Linked DNA regions of Homo sapiens: region 2 is linked to region 1. The links come from fine-mapping of genetic effects on gene expression. Tissue or cell type: whole blood. Region 1 holds a variant in brackets; the other region holds the start of a gene. All regions are shown on one strand. Distances are from middle to middle.

Region 1 (8,107 bases):
AAATATTGTATATTTTAAGAAGCATATTCAAATAGATCTTACTAGTAGAACAAATCAGCTACTTGGTGATGACTTTGCACACAAAACACTGAGCAGCCAAGGGAACACATCTGGGCTGCTTTGGAGAGCACTCTCTGGTGAGAAATCAATGTAAACACCATCTTACCAATGGGATTGGTGGACGTCTCCTGTCCTTTCTGGTACATGCGGTAGTGACGGGTTACAGTCCCGTGGGCAGCCTCTGCTTCTACTGTCTTGCCATCTGGACAAACCAGCACGCTGGTCATCATGCCGAGAGAGCCATACCCTGTAAGTAGTGGAGCATGAAGCGTTGGGTCCAACTGCATGAAGAGCACTGAGTCTCTCAGAGATGAGAGCATAAATGACTCAATCTTGATAGGTCTTGGTAAGCAAAGTAAACAAGAGCACATGGAATCACCAATAATTCTGCCTTTCAGAAGGCAGGATCCCCGCTCCAGATATCAGAGCCAATGGGTCTGGAAAGGCTGCATTTTCCCCTCACTTATTTCAGGGATACCTACTCCTTGATGGAGGGTTCAGGGTCCAACTGCCTACATTCCACTCTAGTTCTATGACTTCATAGCTACTGCGGCTCAGTTTTCTTATCTGTAAAATGGGAGTAATAACAGCACCTACTTCACTAGGTTGCTGTGGGATTAGATAAATATACATATATTCATAAATATATATGAATATATATTTATATTCCTTAGAATAGTACTGGACACAGAGCTCAATCTATTATTGTTATTCTTATGTGCAATGCTCTGCTGTTCTGGGGAAATAAAGATGGACGAGAGCTGTCTCTTAAGAACCCTCAAGCTGCTCATACACTTGCTGGGACTGGGAAGAGAAGGCAGGTAAACACAGGATCGGTTGGATCTAAGAACATCCCAGTTGCCCTTCCTCGCTCTCTTTCATACCCTCAGTACAACAGTTCTCTTCTGTGGTTTCTTATTGAAAGAACCACATTACAACTCTTATATCTATATAATTGATTTTCTTCTTTTCTCCATTTTTGCTACCTCCCAACATCACCTGTGAAGTTAATAATCAACCACGGAGTCATCACAAAGCAATAACACTCCTTCCTCTGTTGCATTCAGTACAAATGATTGTGAGGATGTAGAGAAACAGAAGGATGGTAAGGAGAGTTGTGTAACTCATTTATCTGGCAAAAAGTTATCTTTAACCAGGTTGATCTACTGATTTTCAAACTGAGAGGAGATGTTTAACACTGATAAGAGACAGAAAAAGTAGTACTTCTTGGGAAAAACAAACATAATTAAAGTTAACAAACATTCATCTGGGGAGATTCAAGTTCATACAGCTACCAAGGGCAACTGAAACTGAAGGGCAACTTGGTGCTGAGGAAACCAGGCGCTGTGTTTCTGTTGATTTGGCCCTTACCCCATGCATGAAACTTCTCCTGGAATTTCTGTAAACAGCCCCTAGGGTTCTTTGCTCAATTGATTTGTGTGTAAGCTAAGCAGTAAACAAAAACACTTTTTCTTTGTTGTTGTTGAGACAAGAGTCTTGCTCTGTTGCCCAGGCTGGAGTATAGTGGCGTGATCTCAGCTCACTGCAACCTCCGCTTCCCAGGCTCAAGAAATTCTCATGCTTTAGCCTCCTGAGTGCCAGGGACTATAGGCATGCGACCACACCTGGCTAATTTTTTTTTTTTTTTTTTTTTGAAGTAGAGATGGGGTTTTGCTATGTTGGCCAGGCTGGTCTTGAACTCCTGGCCTCAAGTGATCCACTGCCTTGGCCTCTCAAAGTGCTAGGATTACAGGCGTGAGCCACTGTGCCCAGCCAAACACATTTGTTTTATATTCTACCAGAACAGCAGCTGGCAGAGGGACATGAGTAGGTCCTGCTGCCCAATAAATGAGCTTTGCAGGCACCAAAGCTTGGTTATGACATGATCAAGCTCCTCACTTTATCCCTCCTTGCCTGAGTGCCCTGGTTTTTTACATTTTCACCAAAGGACAAGGAGGGCAGGGAAAGGGAGTGATTTTCAGATCAGGTAGGCTTTAAAACTTCAAGGAGTGACACTGGAGCCAGGAGTGTCAATCCACTAATTTACTTCCCATGTGGTCTTGAGTAAATCATTTCTCTAGTCTGAGCTTAATTTCCTTAGCTGTCAGGTAAGACGGTGGACCTGGAGGTTTAACATTCCAAGATTTTACAACAAAGGACTACAAAACTCCCCTTCCCAAATTAGAGAACTACCCTGGAATGACCCTGTTCCTACAGGCCAGGCTCCACCTCTGTACCTTGGGCCACAGAGTCCGACTGCACGTCACCATCATAGTTTTTACAGGCCCAGATGAAGCCTCCCTCTGATTTCATAGCTTGGGCCACCATGTCGTCGATGAGCCTATGCTCATACCAGATCTTTTGAGCTTCAAACTGGGACTTGTACTGCCTGGGAAACAAAAGGTAAAAGAGAATAATAATAAAGAAAATTGATTTTGTTAGGGATATCATCTGCTTGTCCCAAACAGAAGACCGGACACACAAGAAGCAGCATATTTTAGTAGAAGTAGCAGAAACTCAGGAATCTGACAGACATTGGCTCAAATCCTAGCCCAATCATTTTCTAACTGTAAAACTCAATTTGACTATCTGTAGGAACAATTTTACCCACCTTGCAGGGAAGCCGTGAGAATTAAGTGAGACAGTAGAGTATCCCAATGACTACTTCACTTTTCAGTTTTCATTATACTATAGATCAGATTCTTGAGATTCAGCTTATTTTTAAAATACATTTTTGAAAAGACTGTTCTACTTCTTGGTGTCATTCAGGAAACTAAAATATATTCCAGACAGTTTCTGGGCTTGGTATAGATGGGCAGCAGGAGGAGGAATCAAAATGCCTCAGGAACATTTTGGCCTGAACACTTGCACCTAAAGGGAGTTATGCCAATCTTAAATATTAACACATGCTCACCTCCTGTGCTGTGGAAGCCAGTGTTGTTATAAACTTAGACTTAAGTTCAAATGACTCCACTAAAACAGAATTTTAAATTCTTTTTTTTCTTTTCTTTTCTTTTTTTTTTTTTGAGACGGAGTCTCGCTCTGTC[G/A]CCCAGGCTGCAGTGCAGTGGCGTGATTTCGGCTCACTGCAACCTCCGCCTCCCGGGTTCACGCCATTCTCCTGCCTCAGCCTCCCCAGTAACTGGGACTAGAGGCGCCCGCCACCACGCCCGGCTAATTTTTGGTATTTTTAGTAGAGTCAGGGTTTCACCGTGTTAGCCAGGATGGTCTCGATCTCCTGACCTCGTGATCCGCCCGCCTCGGCCTCCCAAAGTGCTGGGATTACAGGCATGAGCCACCGTGCCTGGCCAACAGAATTTTAAATTCTAACAATGGGCTTCAGAAAGAATGGAAATGGGTCTGACTTAGAAACTCACACATGAAAAATTAGAACTTATCACTAACAGCGTACGTTTATTTAAACATTAAAGAACCTGGCTCTGAAAACAATTCATGTGGGGACCTTATTTAAGAACATGTTTATCTTATAAAAGCAAGTCAGAGTGGTTTTGTTTCACTCCTGCTAAACCTCAGTTTTGCCCTTATCTTTAAGAGACAGTGATGATTTTCACTCAATTTACCCAGAATCATAGGGATAGGGAGATACATACTCTATATGCAAATGTCAGCTTACTTGAGAATAAAGAAAAAGTTAAAAAAGAACTATAGTTACTTGTCATATATCTCCTGAAAGATGTCTTTAAAACGCCCATCATATTTCTTCAGAATAGTGTTTTTGGTGCTCAGATACAAAGGCCAACCCTTAGACAGAGCCATTTGGAAGGAACTGTGTGCAAAATCTTCAATTGACTTATCTTGATTATACATCCCCATGGCAACACCACCACCTTCTGTAGAGGAGAAGCCAGTGAGAGGAAAAAAGGGAGAAGAATAAATGTAATGTAGTTGTAATAAGGCTAAAATCACCCACCACAACCAAATGACCTACTTCTCAGCTCTCACATCTGAGACTAGATTTCAGAAGTCCCAGACAGGTTTCCAACAAATTTCTGAGGCACATAATGAGAGAAAAGCCAGTTCTAGATAAGGACATTCTAACTTGTTTTGGAAGGACAGCAGAAATGAAAAAACATACAGTCTTTAAAATCCTGAAGATGCAGAAATGCCAAAAACTGATATGAACCAGAAATACATTTAAGAAAAGGCAAATAATTTTGAAACTTCTTTTACATACTGATATGGTTTGGATATTTGTCCCTTCCAAATCTCATGTTGAAATGTGATTCCCAGTGTTGGAGGTGGGGCCCAGTGGGAGGAGATTGGAACATGGGGTTGGATCCCTTATGAATGGCTTAGGACCATCCCCTTTGGTGATTACGTGAGTTCTCGCTCAGTTAATTCACTTGAAATCTGGTTGTTTAAGAGTCTGGGACCTCCCCCTTCTCTTTCTCTTGTTCCCGCTCTTGCCATGTGATACACCTATTGTCTGTTTGCCTTCTGCCAAGATTGGAAGCTTCCTGAGGCCCTCACCAGGAACAGGTGTTGGAGCCAGGCTTGTACAGCCTGCAGAACCATGAGCCAATTAAACCTCTTTTCTTTATAACTTACGCAGCCTCAGGTATTTCTTTATAGCAACGCAAGAATGGACAAACACCCTACCTTTACAATTCCCAACATCTATTTTAAACTTTAGGGGTGTACTCAATCCTCAGTTATTGAGAAAAACTTAAATTTCAAATACTGAATGAAAATTCTTATAATCTCCTGGAGGATACTGAGCACTCCTACTGTAGTTGGTAGAAATAAGTAGAAATAATTATGCTACATGTAATCACTGTGTTTTACAACTATTATTGAACTTTGTTATTACTTAAAGATAGAACTTGAATCCATGCCAATGCTCAGGGTTAACTTGGGTTCAGGGTGAAAGGTGCTGAAGCCTGCAGAACCAGATTCCAACAGATATTATTTGGAAGAGGCAAGAAAAACAAAAGGTAGGTGAGTGTTGGGTATTTTTGTTTGTGTGAGTGCTTTCAACAACTTCAATAGTGAAGGAAAAGGGCCCACTAATTATTTCAACAACTTTTGGGTGGGATTTGCCATCAAAGGTAGCAGGGTAGCTGGGAAAGAAAAGGCAAAAAGCAAATGTTCTACTTTTTCACAGGATAAATACCCAGAAGGGCAAGAAGAAAACTTCAGCAAATATATAAGGAAACCTCTTCCAGATACAAGAGCCCTACCAGAGCAAAGGGCAGGATTATATGCTGGGTGATTTGAGAATATTAATATTTAATGTATATAATTCATGCACAGCAGATTTCTGCCAACCTTCTCTCTGTGCTTTAAGATAAATGCATAATCATCTCCTTGTCTTTGCCTAAAGGCATTTCCAATTAAGTGGGTAACCCTTTTGTGCCTTTATTCATGCCACAGGAAGGTATGGAAGCAAATTACTTCTTTATGTCAAGTTTCGGGTTTTGCAAAAACACTGTAGATTCAGATTATATTTTTAGGCAGTCACATAACTAACAAAAAAAGCAATAAAAATATTATCTAAATCATTTGTTTAAAAAAAAAAGAAGCTTATGCTACAGTCATACATACCTTCAAAGTTATGTACCAGGTATGTCACCTTTTGGGTTCCGTCACTTGGTGTGTAGGTTATCTCTACTTTTCCAGGCCCAGGAACAACAAAATCAGTTGCTCTGTACTGTGTAGAGGGGAAAAAGGTATAAAGAAAAAAAAAATACCCTAGCAGGAATTGTAAGGAGAATATTCATATAATATAGACCTAGAAGACACCTAGACAAATAGGGCAGTATGTCAAACTTCTTTTTTTTTTTTTTTTTTTAGGAGATGGGGATGAAGAGGTCCAGACATTCCCCTAAATCAGTAAATATTTATTAGGTGCCTATACGAGGTATAGGAAAGTTTTCTGAGCACTGATTTGAAGAGGACAGAGAATAACATAAGCCACTTTCCTTTAGGAAGTTTACAACCCTATAAAGACATATATAAGTGAAAAGCAATATAAGAGCTTTCAAATGCCAAAAGAGGGTATTAGACCCCCCCCCCAAAAAAAAAAAAACTATAGGATGACAGAGGAAAAGAGGTGACCATGGAAGGAAGTCAGGGAAGTCTCCCTAGAGGGTGATGATAACAATACTAATTGTAGTACTGAGGTAGCTAATGCTTTGTCCTTACTCTATGCCAGATGCTTTAAATGCTTAACTTGCATAATCTCATTTGATTCTTACATCAGTCTTACAAGGAGGGAACTATGATATAGTAGAAATAATGCATCCAGGGTCAAAGGACTTGAGGTCTCGTCCTTACTTAGGCCATCGGGGCTCGGTCTCTCATGGTATCATTGTTACTAGTGTTATAGGACTTGTTCATATGGAGCAATCAAATCATTCTGGGAGCAGCTACAATGGGATGATGATGATTTTTAGGAAAGGGCTGTTCAAGGACAGGCACCTCCCTCATGGGCCTCAGCTACTCAGTGGAATAATATGCCTGGCATATACTAGACATCCATAAGTCTTTGCTGCATTGTATCTTCTTCAATGAATTGAATCAGATACTTGCAGAGTTAGGTACCAGCAGGTGCCGGCCACATCTATAAGTGTAGAGAAATACTAATAACAACTGGTAAAAGAGCAGTAAGTAACAATAAAGATTAAACACCTACTTTACACAGAACATTTTTGACATATAAAATCCATAAAGTAAATATGGGTGGTAATTTATTACTATTTCTGAAAAGGGAGAAACTGAGGTACCAAAGCACCATAAATGCTTTGTATAGGTTTATGTATATTTAAACAGTCCATGAATCAACCTGAGGTTTGAAATTCTCTTTCTGGACTTTAATAAATAGAATGGCCATTTTTACAAATGACTGATGCCAAAATAATTAAAAAAAAAAAAAAAAAGAGGAAGGCCGGGCATGGTGGCATGCCTGTAATCCCAGCACTTTGGGAGGCGGAGGCGGAGGCGGGCGGATCACAAGGTCAGGAGTTTGAGACCAGCCTGACCAACATGGTGAAACCCCGTCTCTACTAAAAACACAAAAATTAGCCGGGCATGGTAGCATGTGCCTGTAATCCCAGCTACTCAAGAGGCTGAGGCAGGAGAATTGCTTGAACCCGGGAGGCAGAGGTTGCAGTGAGCCAAGATCACACCACTGCACTCCAGCCTGGGCGACAGAGCGAGACTCTGTCTCAAAAACAAAAAACAAAAAGGATATACGCAGAAAAAAGGCACGACTGAACTGGAAAGAATCTAGGGTGATTTTTACAAGATTAGCGAGTTTGCACCACTGCCATCTACCTTCCCTTGCTTGGGCCCCTGGGAGCTATTTCTGAAGGCTTTGGCCAGGATGAAAGGATAGTTTTAGCCACAGAGTGGAACAAAGTTAACTGACCCCTCAAGGACTAAACTGTTTACCCTCAACACACTGTTTTCAATGATGGCTACATTAAAACCTCTGGATTTCAGCATGAGAGATTCCTGTTTTTAAGGTCCTTTTAAGACATAAACTACTTTCTGTGAAAGTCTGAAACCTCAGTTTCAACACTGAACTTTGATTTTGTTTACTTGGCAGTTTTTTTGCTTAATTTGGCAACAAGTGTACTGGTACAGAAGTAAAGAAGCAATACTTTTTTTCCAGGCAGGAAGGAATGCTTTAGTAAGGCTGCTTTCAACTACCGAGTCAGTTTTTTTTTTCTTTTTCTTTTTCGAGACAGGGTCTTGCTCTGTTGCGTAGGCAGTGGTGTGATCATAGCTCATAGCTGTAACCTTGAACTCCTAGGCTTAAGGGATCCTCAGGCCTCAGCCTTCCAAGTAGCTGGGACTATAGGCACATGCCACCCCACTCAGCTTCGCCTACTCACTTTGTATATGAATAAACAAAACTGGCTCTTCCATGAACAATTGACATAATTATTGAAATACTTTTCATTTTTGTAGAGACAGGGTTCTGCTATGTTGTCCAGGCTAGTCTCAAACTCCTGGCCTCAAGCAGTGCTTCCAAATTGGCCTCCAAAGTGCTAGGATTACAGGTGTGAACCATAGTACCCAGCCA
Region 2 (8,107 bases), 23 kb after region 1:
ACAGCCATTATGGAAAACAGTATGGAAGTTGCCAAAAAATTTAAAAATAAAACTATCATGTGATCCAGCCATCCCACTACAGGGTATATATCCAAAGGAAATAAAATCACTATTTTTTCTTTTATTGAAATTAAAAAAAATCTTTTTATAGAGATGGGGTCTTGCTATGTTGACCAGGCTGGTGTTGAACTCCTGGCTTCAAGCAATCCTTCCATCTTGGCCTCCCAAAGTGCTAGGATTACAGGCGCGAGCCACCGTGTCCAGCCAAAATCACTATTTTTAAGAGGTATCTGCACTCCCATCTTTATTGCAGCATTATTCACAATAGCCAAGATATGAAATCAACCTAAGTGTCCATCAATGAACAACTGAATAAAGAAAATGTGGGGCTGGGCACTGTGGCTCACGCCGGTAATCCCAGCACTTTGGGAGGCTGAGGCAGGTGGATCACGAGGTCAGGGGTTCAAGACCAGCCTGGCCAAGACAGTGAAACCCCGTCTCTACTAAAAATACAAAAATTAGCCAGGTGCAGTGACAGGCGCCTGTAATCCCAGCTACTCGGGAGGCTGAGGCAGGAGAATAGGGGTGGGGTGGAGGTCGGGGGGGTTGGGGCAGAGGGTGGAGATTGCAGTAAGCCCAGATTGCACCACTGTACTCCAGCCTTGGTGACAGACTCCATGTCAAAAAAATAAAATAAAATGTGGTATATATATACGGTGGAACATTATTCAGCCTTAAAAAATAAGGAAATTCTGTCTTTTGTGACAACATGGATGAACCTGGGGACATTATGTTAAGTGAAATAAACCAGACACAGAAATATACCACAAGATCTCATATATATGGAATTTAAAAATGTTGAACTCATAGAAGTAGTGGGTAGAATGGTGGTTGCCAGGGGTAAGGGGTGGCGGAGAGAGAAAAAGAACAAAAAGTAAGATGTGCTCAAAAGGTAATGGAGGCATGTCAAATGGACTCAGGAGTCTGCTGGAAGGGGCTCACACCAGCCAAGGCGGGGACACCTGGAGCACAGAAATGAATAGTGGCAGTAATGAACTATAACATGTTGGAAAAAAATGAGTCCAAAGTCATACTAACCAATATAAAGAAAGAAAGAAAAAGATGGAACGCTATTAGTTGCAGTAAAATTCAACTAATACATACAGAGGAATAGAAGTATAATATCATCGAACAATAATTGATTCAGCAAGAATCCTAAATCTGTGCTTGAATGAAAGTTTTTGAGGAGGATATATACACAGACAAATAATCTCTCTACAGATAAAATTCATCTGGAATTAATTTTGGATGTCTAGTGTGAAGTGAGAATCTAAAATGATTTCTTTTGCAAAAACAGTAGCCCAGTTTTCAATCTCTTTTCCACAGAAATTAAACTGTAAGCTAATATAGATATTAGACGGTAAGCTTCTTGAGGACATGGACTGTGTAATGTTCACATATATTTTTATTTTTTAGGCTAGTCAAGTGAAGCAGTGGGATACGTTCATAATTCTATCCTTAGTGTAGTGCTTCTATAACTAACACACTGCAGGTTAAATTAGGGACTCAAAAATATTTGCGGAGTGCACTTTTTTTTTTTTTTTTTAAACCATAGATGGAGTTTCTACATACACTGCAGTCGTCGTGGCTGGGCAATTTATTCTTTTCATATGATCTCTGTACCTATTTCATACTTTATTGTAGGTTTATGAAATATTAACATAGGGTGATAATTACGAGGGCCTTTTTTGCTTATCTTAAATTTTTAAAAAAAATTTTTTTAAAGGAAGGCAGAGACTTGAGCATCTTTATGGGCTGAGGAGGCAGAGTCATTGGAAAAGGGGAGGTTGCAGATACGGTGCAAGCTCCCAGACAGGAGAGGGTGAATTGGGGGCCAAAAGGATTGAGCTGGGGAAGAAGAGGCCCCTTCCTCAGAGAGATGAGGGAGAAAGGCAGACCAGGGCAGATGTGGATGTAGGTAAATGTTGTGGTGTGTGGGGAATTAGCTTGTTAAGGGTCACGCCCAGATACCTTGGGATTTTTCACGTGGGTATAAAATATGATTCTCTGATGAGAATGATGGTCAAGGTAATGTGGGGGTCGTGGTGGTGGTCTGACGCAGCAGTAATAAGGAATGGGAGAAGCTGACTACAGACTCCCAGAAAGATTGCTGAAGGGCCCAGCTGAGGATGGTGACTGGGATTTGCACTGGACTCAACCTGCAGGTTTCGATGGTGCTTTCCAACTCCAGGAAAACTGGGCTGGGATTTGACAAAACTCTTGAGGAAAAGGACTCACAGAATTTAAAACTGCATTTCCCTTTAGGTTTCGTCTGCTTTCCATCCTCCCCTACCAAGCCCCACAACTGCGGCGAGCATGTTTTCTGCAGTTAACTGCACTGCGCTCTCAGCAGGACAGAAATGACGAATAACTCTAGCCAAGCTGAACAAGATAGGGCTTGGGCTTGGTAACTTTATTTGCATCAGCATTTGCAACACAACACCTAAATGAAAAAATTAACTATAAAGCCGACATCACTTACTCTGGGTCAGGGAACTGTGCCATTCGCTTTAAGTGCATTTACTTAATCTCAAAAAAGTATTAAGAAGTGAGTCCTTTTATTAATCCGACTTTACACACCAGAGGTCTAAGGCCTAAATAAATGAGCAATTTGCTTAAGATCATATGGCTGGTTATTGGTGGAGTCATGCAAGTCTGGAAACAGAGTCATCGCTAACTCCGGTTCAGTGCTACACGAGTGAACTGTCTACAACAAAGCAATAACATATTATGAGTGCCCACAGTATCGAACACATACGGTAACCGCAGTCCAGCCAGCACCCCTGCAGTGCCCAGAGCACCAAGCACCCATCCGTTGACCCCGCATGCGTGACGCTCACGCGCGCAGTCCCCCTGGCTTCTTCCAGGAAGGCTGAAGCGGCCTAATCTCGGCCAAAAGATCAGGACGACTCGATCTGGGCTGGACTCCTTCTGCCTGAGCATCTGATCCGAGCGTCGGCCGGGCTGGGAGGAGCCGGCCCCCGGGAAAGATTTCGGACTGGGGGACAGGAAAACAGAGGGCGGAGTCTTGGGGGGGGGAAGCGAGAAGCCGCATCAACCATGTAAGCAGCTTCGCTTCCTGCCGCAACCGTCCGCGGCCTGAGGAGCCCACCGCCGCTCTCGGGGGCCGACTTCCGGGGGCTGAGCCGTTGAAGCGGAGGCTGGGGCGGGGGGCAGCCGGCGCGGCCGGGGCAGGAGGCGCAGGTAAGGGAGGGGGCCTGGAGCTTGGCCGGCTGGGGCTCAGCATGGGAAGGAGGCCGGTATGGGGAGCTCCAGGGCCAGAGCTGAGGTGAAAGTGAGAACCAGGGCTCCGCAGTCGGGGGCTAGGGCCTGGCTGCCGGCTGAGCAAGGAAGGGCAGAGAATCTGGCTTTAGAATTAGCTTGTCCTCCCTATTCCCCGGCTGCCTTGTCTGGCGAGTGGGGACGGAAGCCGGGTGGGGCCCTTGAGATTTCCTTGGAAACATTTGAAGTTCCTTTGCCTCTCTCTCGACCCTTACGCCTGAACTTAATTAGGAGGGGAAGAGTACAGTTACTTTTCCCTCTGAGTGCATGAGTTCTGAGTTTGTCAGAGGCGCATCCGTAGGCTGGAAAAGAAAGTTCATGAGCTGCAGAAACGATACCAACCGTGGGGGTTCAAATAAGTGTTTGTCTTTTTAAATGCTTGCCTCTGCTATTTGAGACGATTCCATTTCAACTTAGGTTTTGGAGTTTCTTGAGGAGGAGCATTATTTCCCAATTAGTGTTTACCCTTTGCTTAGAATGTTCCCAACAAAAGGATGAGAATGGAATGTGTTGGAAACTTTTAGGACTTAGGGGTTTTCTGCCCAATCAGAGGTTATTCCTAAGACAGTCAAGAAATATAAGAAGTGCTAGAATTCTGTATAAAGCAAGTTATTCGTGTGTATCTGATGTGTATACATGATTCATTATCTACTATTGACGCAGTGCATCCTGTGTTGTAAAATATGTCCAGTGTTGACAATAGAGGTAGTCGCTTGGTATAATGTACTTATTTCTGATTTATTTGAGCCCCTTTTTTGGCACTCCAAAACTCCCACTCTGTCAGTTTTCTTACAAAAAATGTTCTTTCTTTTGTGTTTGTGACAAAGATTGTGTAGGTTAAATCTCTTCTGTGGAGCAAGGCTAATTTCCTGTGTTCTCCCTTTTTCTGCTTTCTGGATCCTGCTCTGGTTTTCCTTTAAGCGTGTTGGTCAAAAATTGAACAAGAAATCTTTGTTGATAGAAGCTAACATTTCCAATATTCAGCTTTCCTAAATTATTACATTGCCAGTTTTTTTTTTTTTTTTTTTTGAGAGACAGAGTCTCGCTCTGTCCCCCAGGTTGGAGTGCAGTGGCGCGATCTCCTCCGACTGCAACCTCCGCCTCCCAGGGTTCAGGCGATTCTCCTGCCTCAGCCTCCTGAGTAGCTAGATTGCAGGCGCGCGACACCACACTCGGCTAATTTTTGTATTTTTAGGGGAGACGGGGTTTCACCATGTTAGCGAAGCTGGTTTTGAATTCCTGACCTCAGGCGATTCACCCGCCTCGGCCTCCCAAGGTGCTGGGATTACAGGCGTGAGCCACCGGGCGGGGGTCTCCCTCCCTCGCCCAGGCTGGAGTGAAGTGGTGTGATCTCGGCTTACTGCAGTCTCCGCCTCCCAGGCTCAAGGGATTCTCCTGCCTCGGCCTCCCAAAGTGCTGGGATCACAGGTGTGAGCAGCCACGTCCGGCCTTTACTGACTGGCTTCTGATAGTTTGTAGTAGGTCTGCATATATTAGTAGCCTTAATTAGAAATGGTGAAGTATTGGTGATATATCAGAAGGCTTTGGGTAGGTAGGTTAATAGGACTGATTACCACTCAGGAAAGAGTCCTAATTTATATTTTAAAGCGTTGTTAAGCTGCTAAAGAGTGAGAGTTATAAGATAATTTTTTCAGGGCCCTAGTGTCATTATGTAATTATTAGGGTTAACTATATGATTGGGTTTATATTTCAGAGACTACACTTGCTAAGTGTTTTCATGGGAATTTTTATCTTCTTATTTCCAAAGCCGAGTATAATTTTTGTGTAGATAACCTTTAGAAGTAATTCTAAGACTCTTTAGGCAGAATGTCATCTCTGCCTCTGACATTACTTGTGTCAAAGTAGAATGTAGGCTGTTTTCCAGGGGTGGTTGTTACGGCCATCACATTATCGTTTCTCTCCAGAGCTCTTTTTTTTTTTTTTTTTTTTTTCCCTAAATAAAATAGAGATGAAGTCTCGCTATGTTGACTAGGCTGGTCTGGAACTCCTGGCCTCAAGCGATCCTCCCGTCTCAGCCTCCTAAAGTGCTGGGATTACAGACATGAGGCCACAGTGCCTGGCCTCTTTTTTTTTTTAATATAAAAAAAACACAAACTTTTTTTTGAGTGTATACTTATTCAGTTATCAGCTTACTTCCCAACACTTTTTGCTGAATTGTCATGACACTTCAGAAGGATTGTTGATGATTATTCTCAGTGGAAGATATTAGAAACCTTCCTTCCCCTTCTTCTTCCTTTTCTCCTTCCTCTTTCCTTCCCCTTCCTCTTCCTCTTTTTCTTCCCCCCCCAATAAACATGTATTGCCAAAATTCTGTTTAAGTCAGTGGTTTCATTTCTGCCTTAATTTATTAATTAAATTATTGATCAGACAAAGCCTTAAGTAGTTAGAGAACGCGGATAGGCTAAAAGGGAAGTGTGAAGAGCTACAAAAGTAATTTTGATTTAGGTAATACTTTTGGGGTGAGACTTGGGGTATAGTGACAGTTCTACTAATGTCTGTGTGACCCCCAAGAAAGTTGTTTTAGGTTCAGAGTACCTTGGTTGCCTCAAAGGTAAAATGTCATAAAGCCAGCTGTGTGTGCCTTCCAGGATTGTAAGAGTAAAATGAGATGGTAGCTATGATTTTGAATGTGAAAAGCATTTTACCGAGACTGTAATGTCCTCTTTGTAAAGTGGAGACTAGATTATAAACTATAGTATATATATTGTTTTCTCCAAGGGAGGAACCTTGTCTTTATTTTGAAACAGTAGGTAGCCTCCTGGTGGCTGGAACATGCTTCTGCCTGCAGGGGGCCCATTGTCTGGGCCCTAGGGATCTACAGAGCTCAGTAGGCTTAGGAAGTGTTTCAGGAAGGCCTCCTAGTTGATGCTGTCCTCATGTCCTGCCAGAACAGTCTCCATCTCCTCCTCAGCCATCTTCCCTCCCAGGGTGGTGAGGACTTGTCTGAGCTCTGCTCCCGTGACTTTGCTGTTCCCCTCCTTGACTAACACATGAAGCCCCTCCAGGTAGTCCTCATATGTGCCTTGGTTCTGCTTCTTGGCTGCTGCCTGGAGCATGGGCAGGAAAGTCTTGAAGTCCACATGCCGGGACTTCAGGTCATCACTCTTGGGGTTCCCCAGGACCTTCATCACCTTGGCACTGGTGAGGTTCTGGTCCAGGGCCCCCATCATGTCCCCAAACTGGCTGTATGGGATCTTGCCATCCCCCACTCAGTTAAACAGCTTGAAGGCCACCTTGAACTCCTCCAGCTGATCCTTGTTAAACTTGATCACCACTTTGGAGAGATCAACTGGGGGCTCCTTGGTTTTCTCAGGGGCCTGGGGGATGGGATAGCTGGCTCAGCTTTGGTCTTGGCTGGAGGGGCCCATGCTGCTGCTGGCTTGGCAGCACCTTTGGAGATGGAGGGCCCTGCTGGTTCCTCCCAGAATATCCTTGGGAGGCATGATGTCTGGTGGCCAAAGGACAGTGTGCGGATGGGGGCACCCATCTCTTGCAGGGTCCGTGTCTGGGCCAGACTACAGTATTTTTTTTTTTTTTTTTTTTTTGTGGATGGAGTTTTGCTCTTATTGCCCAGGCTGGAGTGCAGTGGCGTGATCGGCTCGCTGTAACCTCCGCCTCCTGGGTTCCAGCGATTCTCCTGCCTCAGCCTCCTGAGTAGCTGGGATTACAGGTACCCGCCACCATGTCCAGCTAATTTTTGTATTTTTGGTAGAGATGGGGTTTCACCATGTTGGCCAGGCTGGTCTCGAACTCCTGACTTCAGGTGATCCGTCCACTTCGGCCTCCCAAAGTGCTGGGATTATAGGTGTGAGCCACCGTGCCTGGACCAGTCTACATTATTTTAATGATTAGAGTTATCCATGGTTCTTCTCTTTGAAATATAAATCAATATGGCAGAAAATAGTACTTTTCTGTAACTTCCATCTGGTGATGTGGTTAGCTTTATTGCTTTGGTTGAAATATGATTTTTTGGTTATTTAGAAACAAAGCCCTTTAAGAAGATCTTCATCTTAATGTCTATGAATTGAGGCTTAAAGGGAGGAAAAACCAGGTTCATGTGTTTAGGAGCAAAGATAGTGGGGAACAACTTGTTGATTTGAGTAGTTGTCATAGGTCATGAAGTGTAGCTTGAGGTAATTGTTAAAGTTTTGTAGACATGTCATTAGAGAATGACTTTCATGTCCTCGTCTTAGAAATATAATGATTTTTATATTACTTTTTAAAATATAAAAGTTGAGGCCAGGCATGGTGGCTCATGCCTGTAATCCCAGCACTTTGGGAGGCTGAGGCGGGTGGATTACCTGAAGTCAGGAGTTGGAGACCAGCCTGGCCAACATGGTGAAACCCCATCTCTACTGAAAATACAAAAAATTAACTGGGCGTGGTGACTGCGCACCTATAGTCCCAGCTACTCAGGAGGCTGAGGCAGGAGGATCACTTGAACCTGGGAGGTGGAGGTTGCAGTGAGCCAGGATCACGCCACTGCACTCCAGTCTGGGCGACAGAGCAAGACTCCATCTCCAAAAAAAAAAAAAAAAAGTTGAAATAAGGAAAATAAGACTGAAGAATTTATGTGTGTGTTGTATAACTAGCTTCCCCCCATAACTTTAAAAAGCTGTTGTGTATCCCTTCTTCCGAAACATCTTAAAATGAAAGAGCTAGAAATGATGTGAAAATGCTTATTTTTCTTCTGCCTGCTCACATTAATGCTTTACCTCCAAATTTTTATTAATTTAAATCTTTT

What was found. PIP is the estimated chance that this variant, and not a neighbour inherited with it, causes the effect.
Region 2: it holds the start of PIKFYVE, and the variant in region 1 is fine-mapped to the expression of PIKFYVE in whole blood (TOPMed, PIP above 0.99).

Annotation. Positions count from the first base shown.
Region 1 is chr2:208,239,697-208,247,803 of GRCh38, forward strand. IDH1 (isocitrate dehydrogenase (NADP(+)) 1) reads right to left here. Exons shown (of 10, transcript NM_005896.4): 5 at 5,623-5,728; 6 at 3,731-3,908; 7 at 2,298-2,449; 8 at 167-307. Among named protein-coding and RNA genes, the nearest start is that of IDH1, 11 kb to the right of the region's middle. The variant G/A (reference allele first, on the strand shown) is at 3,108.
Region 2 is chr2:208,263,152-208,271,258 of GRCh38, forward strand. PIKFYVE (phosphoinositide kinase, FYVE-type zinc finger containing) reads left to right here and starts at 3,104. Exons shown (of 42, transcript NM_015040.4): 1 at 3,104-3,264. It also overlaps the pseudogene MYL6BP1. RefSeq lists enhancers at 2,941-2,990, 6,324-6,825 and a silencer at 3,121-3,390.